Linked DNA regions of Homo sapiens: region 2 is linked to region 1. The links come from fine-mapping of genetic effects on plasma protein levels. Region 1 holds a variant in brackets. A gene starts in the other region. All regions are shown on their forward strands.

Region 1 (8,524 bases):
CATAGAGATTTAATAACAGGCTTGGTGCTCTCTGGTTAATGAGTGGGCTGGGAGTGAGAAATCTAAGGCTCTGGTGATTTCCTACAGAATGTTGGACATTGTCTCTCAGCCTTCTCCACCAGGAGGATCAGAGTGGTTCTTCCATCAAGAGTTCTCTCATCATTTTTTGCTCTTAGTGCATCTGAGTTCTTGAATGTCTTCACTCTTGCAGAATATTGGAGTCACTTAGAAGTTCACTTTCATGTCAGACATAACTGGATCATGCTTCTCTCAAAGAGGATAATAGTAACCCCTGGGAGCTCAAATTCAGAAGCTTGCCTCCAAGTGCAGCTTTAAGTCTCAAGGCTATGTGCTGGTCCAGGACAGTTGGTAGATTAGGTCTCCCCTTGCATACAACCCAGTGAAACAATTCAACCTAGCACAGCTTCAACAAGCACGAACCATATATGAAAGTGCAGGTAGCAGAGGGCATGATGGCCATGCATGATTATTTGGGGAAAGTGGACAGTGGTAACTCTCTGCATAGTCCTGTCTGATCATCTCCTCCCAAGAGACCCCAGCCATCTTTCTTTGCCACCATCCTCTTTCTCCCAGTGAGCTCATCTGAATACCTGCCTCATTGAAGCATCAGGCAAGTGCTCATCGAGCCCAGCCTCTATGACTAAATCCGCTGTTTCTATGGAGAATACAGAGGAAGAAGACGTGATCTTGACTCAGGAAGGTCAAAATATAATTGTGAGATAAGACAAACATCCATGAAACAATTAGAGAACAGAATAATATATAATTGAGTGGCAGACGGCATGGTTCAGAAATTAAGTGGAATAGCAAGTCTGAAGTCAGGGAAGTCTGTGAGGCCCAGAAGAGTCAAAGAAGGTTTCATGATGGAAATTGATGGATAGAATTTGGAAAGGAGAGGGATAGGCATCCAGATGAAGGAGATGATGGTGTCGAGTAAATGCTGGGAGGCAGAAACGCCTCTGGTGACAGGATACTGCTGAGTGATTGAACAGGAAATGGATGTGAGGGACTGGGGAAAGATAGAGAATGGAGCAGATCCTGGAGAGTCTTGAAGACCAAACAGAGGATCTTAGACTGGGTAGGACATGGGAGTCGTGGAAGGAGTCAGAACAGTAGAATGGCTTGATAAAGGCAGCATTTAGGGAAAATGAGTCTGGCAAGGTAGATTGGATTCTGAAGATTCTAGAGGCTGGTAAGAAAGCTATTGTTACAGGACCTACACATGAGATGGCAGTGGTCCCAGACCAGTGTGGTACAAGTGGAGTAAGGAGAAAAACATATCTTTAAGGAAAAACATGAAACACCAGTCAGCTGACAGGATTATGTAGGATACAAACTACATCAAGTCAGCACCTAATGGATATCTTCTGCAGACAACAGTCTATTTTTGCTCAGGATAAGAGAGAAGTCTAATTATTTTCCATAGATTTATTCCTAAGACTAGCAAACTTGTCTCATACTTCCCTCCCTGTCCCTTGAGTTAACCAAGTCCTTTCTAGAAAATTCTCCAGGTATCAGTCCCCATCCTGAGAGTTCAGGCCAAAATTTCTCTTGCAGGCCACCCTCCTGCCACCTGGAGCATTCTGCTCCCTCAAAGCTTCTCCTTCCTCACAGCTGGACTCATGCTCCTGAGGGTCATTTTCCTAGGATCTGTTCCTCAGCTACTGTTTGATGAACAGGAAACATTTTTCCTCTTTCTTCCTCACTGACCAATATGGTTTGGCTCTGTGTCCCCACCTGAGTCTTATCTCTAATTGTAATCCCCATGTATCGAGGGAGGTAGGTGATTGGATCATAGGGTGGTTTTCCTCATGCTGTTCCCCTGATAATGAGTGAGTTCTCACAAGATCTGGTGGGTTTTGTTTTTGTTTTGTTTTGAGATGGAGTCTGGCTCTGTCACCCAGGCTGGAGTGCAGTGGTGCTATCTCGGCTCACTGCAACCTCCGCCTCCCATGTTCTAGTGAGTCTCCTGCCTCAGCATCCAGAGTAGCTGGAATTATAGCTGCCCAACACCACGCCTGGCTCATTGTTGTATTTTTAGTAGAAACAGGGCTTCACCAAGTTGGCCAAGCTGGTCTCACACTCCTAACCTCAAGTGATTGGCCCACCTCAGCCTCCCAAAGTGCTGCAATCACAGGCATGAGCTGCCGTGCCTGTCTGATGGTTTTATAGGGCATTCTTCCCCTTCACTCACTCCCCTCTCTTGTTGCCATGTGAAGAAGGTCCTTGCCTCTCCTTTGCCTTCCGCCATGATTGTAAGTTTCCTGAGTTCTCCCCAGCCATGTGAAACTGTGAGTCAATTAAACTTCTTTCCTTTATAAATGATCCAGTCTTGAATATTTCTTTCTAGCAGTGTGAAAATGGACTAATATCCTGACTTAGTTTTATTTCTAGTTTGTGGGCTTCTCCCATCTCTCCCTTCTGTCTTTATTGATATTGAGGTAGCCGCCCACTGATATTTGGCTACTTGGCAGCATACTTCAGGTCAAGATGATTAACTTTTCTAGGCATGTACATAGTTATATTTGACATAAATAAAGTGTGTGCTACATACAGGAAAAAGAGGTATCCAGTCCATCTGATGTTTTGAAAGGGGAAGCAAGCCACCACAACTGGAACACAAATGATGAAAATCAAGATGTTGTATGTTTAGACTGACAGGTCTTAGACAGGTTTCAGGAGAAATTTTGAATCACAGAAGGCAAGAACTCTAAAGCATCATCAACATGTTCTGTTTGACCTACATATGGTTTTTATAATTGTTGTTGTTTTATTTACATTTTTAGCAAATATTTAAAATTAAGACATTTTCACATAATAATCCAGGGACAGTTTTGTTTTGTTTTGTTTTGTTTGAAACAGAATCAAAAGATGACAATTATCAGCTAGTGCTGAGTATAGCTGTCCCCTGTAGACAGGGCAAGTATTCTCCTCCTTACCTACCTTTTGAGTACTTATCGGGGCCTGTGAATATTTCAGCTGTGACCCCTGATTTAACTAATCCCTCATTTTACAAAGAAGGGAGATTGAGGCAAAGAGAAGTTAAATGACTTTTTCAGTATTTCCCAAGAGGCTGATATCAGTACGGGGATGAGAACTGAGCTTTGCTGGCCAGTCGTGGTGGCTCACACCTGTAATCCCAGCACTTTGAGAGGCCAAGGCAGGCGGATCACCTGAGGTCAGGAGTTCGAGACCAGCTTGGCCAACATGGCAAAACACTGTCTCTACTAAAAATACAAAAATTAACTGAGTATGGTGGTGGGTGCCCAGCTACTCAGGAGGCTGAGCAGGAGAATCACTTGAACCCGAGAGGCAGAGGTTGCAGTGAGTTGAAATCTTGCCATTGCACTCCAGCCTGGGCAACAGTGCAAGACTCCGTCTCAAGAAAAAAAAAAAAAAAACTGAGCTTGGCTATAAGGCCTCACTCCCTTTTCTCTCCTTTTAAGGACTGTAGTTGTTTCTCAAATACAGGATCCAAAAGGTTGGTAATTGGGGCCAGGAGTTTGAAACCAGCCTGAGCAATATAGTGAGACCCCATCTCTATAAAAAGTTTAAAAATTAACTAGATGTGATGGTGCACACCTGTAATTCCAGCTATTCGGCAGGCGGAGGCAGGAGGACTGCTTCAGTCCGGGAGTTAGAGCTGTGATGAACTCTGAGCATACCACTGCACTCCAGCCTGGGTGACAGAGCAAGACTTTGTCTTGGGAAAAAGAAAAGAGAAAGAAAGGAAGGGAGAGTGAGAGAGAGAGGAGAAAGAAAGAGAGAAAAAGGAAGAAAAAGAAAGGAAGGAAGGAAGGAGAGAGAGAGAGAAAGAAAAAGAGAGAGAGAAGGAGGAAAGAAAGAAAAGAAAAGGAAAGGAAAGGAAAGAAAAGAGAAGGCAACCTGGAGAAAGGCAAAGACCAGCATGTGTGAAGATGCTCATCAGTCAAAACTGATATTCTGAATATCAACTGAGGGATATTGAATAGGTCACCCTGAGAGCCAGAATCTGAGAAAACCCGGAATAGTAGTATTTCTCATCTGCGACCCTTGATGGAATTGTATTTTAAGTGATTGCACTGGCTGCTTACAATGCCAAGACGGAACATACTTCAGAATTAGCTTTTTCCTTTGATTATACTTTGTTGGGTTAAAAAATAAAAAAGTGGACTTGCAAATATAG[C/T]AGTTGTGACTACAGCATTTTAAGCATTTGTATTGAAGATGTCCCAAATTTCTAAATGAAAGTTACTAATAAAAAATATTCATGTATATTTTCCTGTTCACTTTCCTCTCCTAACCTCATTTTGTGTCTTTAGAACTCTAGCCTGAAACATTGGTTCAGCTAGTCTGTCTTGAATATGTTAAAATGACATTGGTTGTTGGCTAGAAGCTCAAGGCTGCGCTGCCTCCCACAGACAGCAGTGCTGTGATCTCTGCAGCTCACAGAGCGAGCGGGAGGGGGCCGCGATCATCTGCTTATCATTATTGATGTGGCTTCGGCGACCTCTGCTGTGTTTCTGTCCAGTGTGATTCTGGATGCAATTCAGAAAACACCTGCTGAAATCCTGGCAAGAGATCCAAGTGCGTGCCAAGGCGAGGTGATTGGTGTGGCTCTTGAACAATGTGAAGGTCAACCTCTTGGCTCTCCTTTAGTAGTTATTTTAATGAAAGAATTCTTTACTGAGTGAATTTGAACAGACCTCGCACAGGCTGGCATTTCTACTTTTTGCATAGTAACACTCAAAATAGCCTTTTGTCTAAAGTGGAAGAAGGATGGAGATTTTACAGGGCATTTACAATTGAAGGACAGACATAGAAGAGAGATTCTCTGTGTTCTTTGAAATATAGGGAAGCTTTAAAATTAATTTTTGATCTTTCCTTTCACTACTCCACCCGTGTCCTCCTCAAAGAAATTATACCTCTGTGACTGCTTTCTTTTATTCTGGGGAAACTTTCTTCCTCCTCCTCAAGCTCTTAGAACTTTTGGCTGATGTGACAAGATCACTTCCTCTCCACTGGTGAGGAAGTTTCAGCCCTATCACTTATGCTGTTGTATTCAATATAGAGTCTACATTTCCATCTACCACGTAAATATGTGAGCTGTAAATGAGAGATAAAAACACCATAGAGATATTTGACTCTTAGAGTGATAGTAGAAGGTTACTGTACATAAAATGGTCATTTGACCTTGGACCACACTGACGTAATAATATTAATGATGACACGATCATAATAATTAACATGTATGGCAAATTTAGCATGTGCTAGAAACTGTGCTAGGTATTATCTAATTTTGTCTGCATAATGCCCCTGTGTTCCTCTAAATGGGTTAAGTTTTAGTTTTAGGGAGTGAAATTTAAGAGGGATACAGGCAAACCAAAGTACATTGCCATCCGGGGTGGGACCAACTGAATAGAGCAGTGATTCTCAAGCTTGTCCCTGCAGTGGAATCTCCTGGAAGGCCGATTAAAACCCAGATTGCTGGGCCCACCACTGTGCATCTCCCCCCAGAGTTTCTGATTCAGTGGCCTAGGGTGGGACCCCCAAATTTGCATTTTTCTAAGTTGCCAGGCAATGCCGATACTGCTGATCTCGGGGCACACTTTGAGAATTGCTGTCCTAGAGCTCAAAACCGTATCACCCATGGAACAGCTGCAGTAATCCAGAATGCTTTCCTTAGAGAAGAGACTGCTCTGGGGTGCCCAGAAGGCTCCTGGGGCCTGTCGAAGACCTGGAGGGTGTTCGTGATACCAAGGATCTGAACCAGGACCAGTGGAAGTGACATTGAGACAAACAGCCTGAGAATAAAGGAGAACAGATGGAGTGGGTCCTGCCAGGGGAGGCCACAAAAATAAAAGATATGGGGATGTGCTTGAACATAAAGGGTGGTGGGTTGCTGAGCAGGGATTGTGTACTTGTGGCCCTGAGGCTGGACACAGCCTGCAGATGTTCTCCAGTGGGAATGCACAAGGCTGTGAGGCATTTTAGCTTGAATGCTATTGAAGGTGTATATCCACCAGTTCACCCGGTCCATATTATCTCTTAGCCCCCACCGAGTCACCCACTTATACTTATCAGCCTGACCACATGTGGTCCTGGAGCTGAAGGGTGTACATGCAGCAGGGTGGTCAAGCAATAGGCAAATGCTGGATTCAGTTTTTTTTTTAATTATCTGTTATTTGAACTCCAAAGAATGAAAGTCAGGATGCTAGGTGAATTGTTCGCTTGTAGGTAGTAAACCTGCAATTGTATGCCAAAAGAGAGGACCCACTAAAAACTACTCTACAATGGAAGCCAACTCTAACATTGCCTGCAAGGACAGAACTTCCTAGTGTGCCTTTCTCAGTAGGGCACAGCGCTGGTTCCACGTTAAAAGAGCTGACCCACAGGGCCCACATAGCGAAAAGACATCCAAGGACTGCAGCTGGACTCATCCTTTCCATCTCCTCCTGCACACATCACCCCAGGTCTGCCCTCCCTGAGCCCTGGTGGGCTGGTCTACCCTGCTAGGAGACAGGAGGGCTGCCGGGAGGCTGGAAAACTAGGCAAGAAGTCTTGGAAGGCAATGACCAAGGCTTAGCAGGAAGAGAGATAAAGAAGGAGGGTTTAGGATTGATTACAAAATGTCTGGCACCAAGAGTGGAAGATTCTTGTGAAGAAAAGCTTATTATAGGAATTTCTGGGGAAAGAAAGAATATAAGGTGAGGAGCAGTGGCTCATGCCTATAATCCCAGCACTTTGGGAGGCCGAGGCAGGCAGATCACCTGAGTCAGGAGTTCCAGACCAGCCTGGCCAACGTGGCGAAATTCTGTCTCTACTAAAAATACAAGAACTAGGCAGGCATGGTGGCATGTGCCTGTAATCTCAGCTACTCAGGAGGCTGAGGCACAAGAATCGCTTGAACCCGGTAGGCAGAGGTTGCAGTGAGCAGAGATTGTGCCATTACACTCCAGCCTATGCAACAGAGCAAGGCTGTGTCAAAAAAAAAACAAAAACAAAAAACAGAAAAGAAAGAATATAGAAAAATTGAAATGACAGCAAGAAGTAACAAGACCAAATTAAGAAAAATTTAGAAATGGGAAATCTGGATACATTGTTATGAGAACTATATTGACTTGACTGTGATGGACTCTTTGTCCTTGAAACATTCCAAATAAAATCAGAGAAAGAGCTGGAAGTATGCTTCAGAAGAATCTTTCACTGATGTGTCTAAATGGCCTGATTCCATCTTTTCCATCTTTGCCTTCTAGTTTTGGTCACCAGGTATTTGGCATTATAATTCCCAGGCCAACACACTGCTGTCACCATTATGAGAATTCTGGGGTGGAGGGACAGTGATTTTCCCCTTCCTTACCTCGTGTCTTCATTCACTCTCTTCCTCTTCCTTCTTTTCCATCCTCCCGTCTTCTCTCCCTCCCTTCCTTTCTGTTTCTCCTTTATCACATTAAATGCAGCTGACTACAAATAAGGAAAGGAAAACTTGGGGAACGCTGTGGTGTGGGTTTCTTCCAATAATAACCTTGGCAGGTAATTTTTGCATATACAGACTGAGTCATTTTCTTATAACTGAGATCAGGGGCTGGATTTCTCCCAGGAGAAAAAACACTTATATTAACGTGTTTATGTTTTGGAATAATAATATTTGTCCATGTGAAAATATGTGTGAGTCCTTTCTGCCACACCATCTGGCGTATAACTATTCATAATCCAAACAGTAGCAGCTGCTGCAGAGCACGAGGATGAGTTTTCTTGAAGTAAAAATGGGCTAACTATTGGATGCCACACGTAGCTTTCACAGCATCACCGGTTACTCACCAGAAACCTACATAGCAGTCCCTTCCATTAATCCATTAGGTTCTTTATTAATATCACAAAAGCTCACTTTGCTATCTTCTTCCATTCCATCCAGTAGAGAAACTCTATCGTTTAACCTTACTCTCAACCTGTGGCCCTTGTACCTTGGGAACATGCATGTGTTTTACCCAAAACTGTTGGCAACTGAAGGTGTCAGTTTGGGTTTTGTTGACTGATGACAGCTGCCAGAAAAATTGCCGGGAATTTTTGCTGCAGTTCTCCACTGCGGCTTCCTACACTGCTGAACCACATTCATTATGTGTTTGTGGCTAATCAGACACATGGGGACACAGCAGCAGTTGATGAATCCCTCTCGGGCCGCTCGGCAAGGCTCTGATGTAATGGAAAGTGTAGGGTAACGCTTTCTACAGATCATTTGAATGCGGTTTGCAGAAACCCTTGAGGTTTAAGAAGGAAGTGGTTTGCGGAATAGGTGCTGGATGCTACTGTATAGAAACCACCACAATCGACAGTACAAAAGAGACCAATTTCACAGGGGAGAATTATCTGCAAGACTTTTTTCATTGCATAGTCATTCTGAGTCTCCCCCAAAAGTTGGAGGTTTTTGAAAGATAAAATTCTTGGCTGGGTGCAGTGGCTCACATCTGTAATCCCAGCACTTTGGGAGGCCAAGACAGGCAGATCTCCTGAGGTCAGGAGTTCAAGA
Region 2 (8,000 bases), not on the chromosome of region 1:
TACAGGGAAAAGTGTATTTTTCACTCTGTCTTTCTGGGATGAGAAATCAAGAACCAGAAATGTTTATTATTGCCCTAGGAACCTAGGAGAAGACGGGTTGTGGCTTTGTGTCCCTAGGTATTTGGAGGATGGGGAGAAGCTGTCCATAAGTGGTAGCAGGGATCCAGCAATATGGTGGCAGGCTGGACTAAAGGAGAGATGACTGGGAAGCAATTTCCTGTGGTGCATGACAGCTGATGGATGGATGTCAGAAACAGTGGTGTCTGATGATCCATTTGAAGCCATTTCCTCCTCTATATTGCTATTACTGTCCATCTCCCCCTAAATTTTCAGTAAGCACCTATTATATAAAGCACCTTAGTATTAAAAAATGAAGGAGATGAAAGAGAAGGTTGTGCAGTTGTATTTTGGGCCAAGAAGAGTGGGAGAGGTGGCAGGGCCAGCGATGAAGAGCCTGCCAGAGTGATGGAGGCCTGAGCAAGGAGCAAGTTGGTGAAGAAAGATTAGGACATTGCCATGTGGAGTCGCTGTGGAAGCCTGTTTGTTCTCAGAGCTCAGTGGAGAAGAGGTAAAAGTAGGGACCAGTAGCTGAGTCATTATGAGAAAGAGGGTTTCATGGTGGTGGAAGTGACACATTGCCTCGATTCTCTTGAAGCTTTCTGCTTTGTTGCTTGAGTGGAGAGAAGCACCTCTGCTATTGCGTATGGAGGGAAGCTCTTTGCATGGATTTTGAAGGCGGCCTCTGCATTTCGGACTACTGGGTGCTCCCCCACAGGCTCCTAACACCTTGCTGCTTCTCCAGGTGGGGTCTGACGTGGAGTCAGCTCACAGACCTGCCATTCCTCTCTCATAGTACTCCTCATTCCAGTGATATCTTGGCCTGCTTCATGAACCCTGAGCCCAGAGTTCCTAAAGCACCAAACCCAGTGAAGCAGAGACACTTCTGGCATGGGTCTGTGGGTTGCTTCTCAGGGGCCAGGCCAGCAAGAATGATTCAGCACACAGGCCAACCTGTGCAAGCTTTATGCATGCATTTTAGGGCAATGGGAAGAGTGGTGAGTGAGGTTTATGGTAAATCTTTAACCACATTCAATTTTTTCTAAGACTTTTCTGCTTTAGAACATGTAGAAATGGAGAAATGACCAGGGGCTGCACAATGCTGTGCTTATTATATTGCTGTAGAGAGAAGGATGCTGCCAGCTCTCCATAGCCTGGGGTGAACTTGGCCTATGTAATGAGGTAGCAGGGAGTCAGGCAGGTGAGTTCTTCCTCTTGTATTGCCTTTTCCAGTAAATGCCAATACACTCCCCAGCTCACCTTTACCTAACATCTAGGTCTTAATCCAAGTTGTCCTCCCACTCCCCAGGGTGAATTGATCTTCCTGCCACGGCACCTCCTGAGCATCTGTTGGCTGAGTCTCCATCCCCACCCGTGAAAACAGCCTTGTGATGTGCTGTTTAATATCACAGAATGGAAACAGTGTTTTGATTCACCAGGATCCAAACACTCTTTTTGTAGAATCTACAAAGTGACATGGATGGCCATATTTTAGAGGACTGTTCCTGCAGCTGGTGGGGAAGCCCTGGTGAGGAGCAGTACAGCAGGCTGTTCTGGCTGGCTCGTTCTGAGCTGTAGGGATGTGACGGAGGCAGGAAGAGTGAGGATGCAGAGGAGGGGAGGACCAAGGAAGTAGAAATGAGCAGCAGCCTGGTAGGACCTGGAGGCTGGTAAGACTTGAGGGGAGAAGCCTAGGATGGGGCTCGGATTTACTATCACAGAGACAGCCAATGGGGTGATGTCAGGAGAAAGGTTGAGGAGTTCAGGTTGGGATATGTTGAATTTGAAATACCTGTAGGGTGTCCAGGCAGAGTGGATCTGAGCTCAAAAAAGTCTGGCTGGAGACTGAGCTAGAGAGAGATGTGGGAGTTCCAGGCATGTGTGGTCCCCAAGAAGGACGGGCAGAGCACGGGTTCTCCCCTGTTTTTAATCCCATACCCTGACACTTCAAATGACTGTTGTGTTTTACTTTCTCTAGTTTATATCAGGAACCCAACAATGATGACAGTAGCTGTTATGGACTGAATTGTGTTCTCCCCCCAAATCCATATGCTGAAGTCCTAAAACCAGGACCTCAGAATGTGACCGCATTTGAAGGTAGGGTCTTTAAAGAGGTAATTAAGTGCACAATGAGGTCACAAGGATGGGCTCTAATCCAATATGACTGGTGTACTTAAAAGAAATAAATATTAAGACACAAACACACACAGGGAAGACCAAGTGAGGATACAGGGAGGAGATGGCCATCTGCAAGCCCAGGAGAGGAGTCTCCAAAGAAACCAACAGTGCTGACACTTTGATCTTGGATTTCCAGCCTTCAGAACTATGAGAAAATAAATTTCTGTTACTTAAGCCACCCAGTCTGTGATAGTTTGTGATGACACCCATAGCAGACTAGTACAGTAGCTAACACTGGATACTTATTATGTGTCAAATACTGTTTTAAGCACTTTGCATATTTTAACACATTTAATATTCATAGCAACCCTATTTGTGGAAGGTAGTACAGTCTACGGCACGGCAGCTATATCGGCCCCTTTATTTTCCCCAGGGTTTGGAGTCTCTTCCACTTTCCAGCTTGTCCTCCTGCCCTTCACTCTACCCGGGACCATATCCTCCAGATTCTCACAGGTCCCTCCATCTCTCCTCAGGTGCCAGGCTCAGCAACCTGCCCTCATTACCTGCCAGTTCCTGACCCTATCTGTCACTAGCTCCTTACCTGGCTGGATTGGTCTTCTGAATACTTGCCATTCCCTGGCATGATGCTTTTGCAAAATAAGAAAATCAATAATAATAATAATAACTGCTAGTGTCTAATAAGCATGTGCTCTTCAATGTCTATTCTCTTACAACTACCTTAACAAATAGGGACATATTATTATTCTCCTTTTAACTTTGCTTTCCAGAGAAGGAGGCTGGGGCTCAGGGAGATGAGGTGAGTTTTTCCAGGTCTCACAGGAACAGGACTGAAGGAAGGAAGCCATGTTTGCCAGGAGAAACCAAATGGACATACAGGCTTTCTGTGGAATACACAGTTCCTGCTATCTTTTGGTTGACAAAGTCTGAGGTCCTAGGAAAGAGAGGAAAGTAATAGAAATATGAATATGAGTGTGTGTGTATTTTGCTTCCCTCACCAAAGTTTTCACAGTCTATATTAATGAGGGCACGATTTTGCCTGTTTTGTTCTCTGCCATATCCTCATTGTCTAGATTAGGTGCCTGCTACTGTGGAGCTCTAAGAGGTTGTTAGAGAAAGAATAGAAGAAAGAAAAGAAGGAAGGAAGGAAAGAAGGAAGAAAGAAAAGAAAGAGGGAAGGAAGGAAAGAAAGAAGGAAGAATGAAAGGAAAGAAGGATAGAAGGGAGAAAGGAAGGAAAGAAGAAAGAAAGGAAGAAAGGAAAGAAGGAAGGAGGAAGGAGAAGGAGAAAGGGTAGGGTGGGGAAGGAAAGAACAAAGGATTGCTTTTCCCTCACTGTGGGCTTGAGCCTGTTCCCTCCAAAGATACAGAGCTTTGGTCTTTACCCATAAAAAAGGATTTTGAAGTCACCCCACCCCGTTCTGTTCCCCCACAGTTTAGACAAGATCCTCATGCTCCACTGGCCACACGAGTGCCCTCAGGAGGAGTAGACACAGGTGGAGGGAGCTCCTTTTGACCAGCAGAGAAAACAGGATGGGGCACTGCCTCACTGAGGACCTGGGGGTGGGAAGGAAAGTGCCAACGGCAGCTCTATAAAAGCTCCCTGGCCAGGGGACCTAGGGCAAGCAGTGGTTTCTCCTCCTTCCTCCCAGGAAGGGCCAGGAAAATGGCCCTGGTCCTGGAGATCTTCACCCTGCTGGCCTCCATCTGCTGGGTGTCGGCCAATATCTTCGGTAAGTTCTGAGGCCATGGAGCCAGGCGGTGGGGAGGGAGCTCCAGTGTCAGCCAGGCTCTGCCCTGGGCCTTCGAACAGGTGCGATCTAATTTAATCTTCACAAATTCCCACATGTCAGTGATTTGCTTTTTTTTTTTCAGATGAAGAGGCAGATTTAGAGAGCCGAACTGAATTACTTGAGGTCACAGAGCTAGTGATTGATGGAGCAGAAATGGGAAATGTGGTTGATCTTCCTAATTCAATTCTAGGTCCTCCTCACCCCACCATTTTGGCAAACTTTTGGCATTGACCTTGGGTTTTTATCCCCTTAGCTATTCCAAAGTCTGTGTCATCCATAACAGGTATTTTAGAAGCAGTAGAAAAAGAAATCTACCTATGAAGTGAAATAGCCCTAAGTTCTGTCTTTGGCTCAGCCACTTACCCATATGACTTCGGGCAAAGTGCCAAGCTTCTGTTTTTTTTTTTTTTTTTTCATTTAAAAAGTAAACAAATAACACACACCTCATGATGCGGTTGTGATTTCTGGGTAGGACCCTATGTGTTACAAGAGTTCTCAATGGAAAAATAAGTCATGTACATTATTAATTAATTGGTATTTCAATGTTTATCTGGAACATGTTACATCTGCAGGGCATGGCTTGATAGATTCAAGAAGAACTTCCTTACGGTTCTCTAACTTACTCCAAATAGCCTCATGGGAATTGCGGCAGGGTGGGGGCGGGCGGGGAACGTGTAGTCCCAGCGTTGATTTTGGGATCCTTCACTTGCCAGTTACGTGACTTTGGGCAGACGACTTTCGCTGCCTGAGACTTGGTGCCTCATGAGTGACAAGGATATATTGCCTGTCACCTCTTAGGAGAATGTTGCACATTAAATGAGCTAATGTCATACTTGTAAGAAAGTGTGCTTAGCTGCCAAATTTTAAAATAGGCTGTCATAGGTAATGATGATGACCCTGGAAAAGCATCTGTGCTTATGAGAGCCCGTCTCTGTCCTGGCAGCCCAGTCCACACTCTTCTTTGATGAACCACTTTTCTTTTCCTAGAGTACCAGGTGGATGCCCAGCCCCTTCGTCCCTGTGAGCTGCAGAGGGAAACGGCCTTTCTGAAGCAAGCAGACTACGTGCCCCAGTGTGCAGAGGATGGCAGCTTCCAGTAAGGCTTATGTCAGCAGCGAACTCTCAAGGTCCAAGATGCCATAAAAAGCATCTTGTGCCTTCCCCCCTCTTCCTGAGCTCTGCCCTGCAACTCCTTTGTGCATGTGAGGCTTGGCCACTGTCATTTGGAGGTGCCTGCCTTTCAGTTCCACTGTCATTTGGAGGTGCCTGCCTTTCAGTTCCCCAAGCTGTTCAACACTGGACAATCTGACCAAGTGAACCCCAATCCATGCTTCATCCTCCCACTGCCCTCCCTTCTCTTCTTGCCATCACTTTTTCTGTGATGGCTTGAATAAACGGCACGTGTGGGGAGTGGGGCAGGTTGAGGAGAGTGTCAAATGATCTGTGCTTTGGGACCTCTCCCTCCTCCAAGTATCCTCTTGAGAAGCTGGGGTGGTGGAAGCAGAGGCTGCCTTGACTTCCTAGTCCTTAGCTGCCACCGACCCTGCCCGGACTAGCTCTCTAGGCTGCCTCTGGGCTTCTGGGTCGCTGTCTCCACATTGAGCTGCTCTCTGAAAGGGGTTTCTCCAGCTGCCCTAATGCAGACTTGGGGCCTGAGACCCTCTCTGTGGAGAGTGTGGTAATAATCTAGACAATTCTTCCCTGCAGAATAGACAGGAATCCTTTGCAATGTGCATGCATTGAAATTTCCTTGTGCTATTCCAGTCATGTTGAATCAGGGGAACTCCATTTATATAACTGCGTTCTGGGAAATGTCTGTGAAACCTCCCTCCCTGCTGCTATCTTATGTACACTCTTAATGTGCCTAACCTCCCACGAGTGTGCAGAGATGCTGCTAGAGCAGTCCCTGCTTAGATCACTGGGAATTCTGGAACAGCAAGGAAGGAGTTAAGGAGGAAGTCTCACTTTCACCAGCCTTATTTATATTCCCATTCCCAACTCTCTTGTTCTGGCCTCTTGCAGTTTCAAACCTGGCCTCTCTTCAGGAGGCTTTGCATATGCTGTTCCCTTTACCTGGAATATCTTTTACCTTCTTATACCTCTGACCATCCTGCAGGTCTCAGTTCAGTCATCATTTCTGGGGAGTCAACTCTATGGCCTGGCCTGACCCCACCCATGTGCTTCCCAATATACCCTGCTGGCCCCTGATCCCACTAACATCCCACCCCCAAGCCCCCACTCCCTATCCATACAATGTGGGCACTGCCTTTACCCTCTGCAGCCTCATAATGCCTGAGGACACTTGGTGGATGTGGCTGAAGCCCTGCACTCCAGGGTGGGTCACTTGTTTTGGGGCTGGCAGGCTGGACAGGTGGTGAATGAATGGCTGGGGCAGGAGGCAGAGCAGGTGCTAGCCAGGCAGGAAAAGTGGGGCCTTTCCTTTCCCAGGTCAGCCACCCTTCTCCACTCCACTCTCTCCCTAATTTAAACGAACCAAAACTTGCAAGAATGGAAATGAAGAAGAAAAGTAGCCTGAGTGGGAGCCGGCATGTGGCTTTGGGGGCCCATCCCAGGGTCACCTGGTCTGTGTCTCCTCCTCAGGACTGTCCAGTGCCAGAACGACGGCCGCTCCTGCTGGTGTGTGGGTGCCAACGGCAGTGAAGTGCTGGGCAGCAGGCAGCCAGGACGGCCTGTGGCTTGTAAGTGGGAGTGGGGGACGTCCCTTGGAGGGACCCTGCTAGGACAACTCACTTCCAGGAATGAGCACTGGGTTTGGGTGGGTGACTGAGCAGGTCCTCCCTCTGGGCTGCTGGCTTCTCCTCTGTGAATAAGAATCATCCCTGCAAGCCATGGAAGGCCCTATTTCCTGCAGGGCCACTGTGAAAGTCCAGTCATTTGTTCAATAAATATCTACCCAGTTCCTCCCATGAGCCACATGCTGAGAAGACAATGGTGAACAGACATCAACATCTCCTGAAATCAGAAAGTGACCAGAAAAATATGAGTGCCTTCTCACCCGTGGTGTGAGGAGTTTCTAAAATTTAAGACTTGGGTCAAAGCTATCCAGTTAAGATAATTATTATAGTGAGTAATCAAAGAAACACAGTCCCTATTTAAAGCATGTCATAACTCTAAAACAATGGTTAACTTAAGCCAACCACCTCAAAATGAGGAAATTGAGCCTAAAACCAAAACTATCCTTTGACGGATTAAAAGCTCTGTTTGGGGTACTGGTTTTATGCATCTAGTATGGTTGTCATGGGGGCACGCTGGCCCCATACTCTCCTGCTGTGTGAGCTTGGCTGAGTCAGGCATCCTCACTGAGCTATGGGTCCTCATCTGTAACATGAATATAGCATCTGCCTTGTATGATGTGAGGATTTAGAACACGTGTAAACACTAGGCACATAGTAGGTATTCAATAGGGGTGATCATTGCTAATGTCTCAGTCCATTTGTGTTGTTATAAAGAAATGCCTGCGGCTAGATAATTTATAAAGAAAAGAGATGTGTTTGGCTCACAGCTCTGCAGGCTGTGCCGAAGCATGCCACTAGCTTCTGCTGCTGCTGAGGACCTCAGGCTGCTTCCACTCATGGTACAAGGGGAAGAGGAACCATCTGTGCAGAGATCATGTGAGAGAGAAAGCTAGAGAGATAGAAGGTGGAGGTGCCAGGCTCTTTTTAACATTCAGCTCTTATGGACACTAATAGAGCTGGAACTCACTCACTCCGAGGGAAGGCATTCATCTCTTCATAAGGGATCCACTTCCAGGACTCAAACACCTCCCACATTGGGGATCAGATTTCAACATGAGATTTGGAGGGGACAAATGCTGAAACTGTAGCAGTTAATGTCACTAGCCTACAAGCAGAGTGGTGAAGCAGCTTCCCCAGGATCACACAGAGAGCCCGTGGAGAAAACTGGACTCAGAAAAGCTCTGTTAATGCCAGGCCTGCACTCTGATCCCATCTCCCCTCCACAGGACCGTGCTCTGGGGTACCTGACTGATGTGGCA

Direction of the effects. Positions count from the first base shown, and alleles are read on the strand shown. Strength reflects both the effect of a copy and how common the allele is.
For the plasma level of the protein whose gene starts at base 3,816 in region 2, allele C in region 1 goes with a lower level than allele T (weak association).

Evidence for each region. PIP is the posterior inclusion probability: the model's chance that the variant is causal. Protein levels are from antibody-based Olink assays in UK Biobank. Linkage for the fine-mapping came from a reference panel and not from the study's own genotypes, which makes the PIPs less certain.
Region 2: TG starts here. The variant in region 1 is fine-mapped to the plasma level of the TG protein (UK Biobank, PIP above 0.99).

Annotation. Positions count from the first base shown.
Region 1 is chr6:148,195,970-148,204,493 of GRCh38, forward strand. It overlaps a transcript of SASH1 not described here. Among named protein-coding and RNA genes, the nearest start is that of SASH1, 140 kb to the right of the region's middle. The variant C/T (reference allele first, on the strand shown) is at 4,187.
Region 2 is chr8:132,863,143-132,871,142 of GRCh38, forward strand. It overlaps TG (thyroglobulin), which reads left to right and starts at 3,816. Exons shown (of 48, transcript NM_003235.5): 1 at 3,816-3,925; 2 at 4,973-5,081; 3 at 6,587-6,684. The coding sequence starts at 3,859.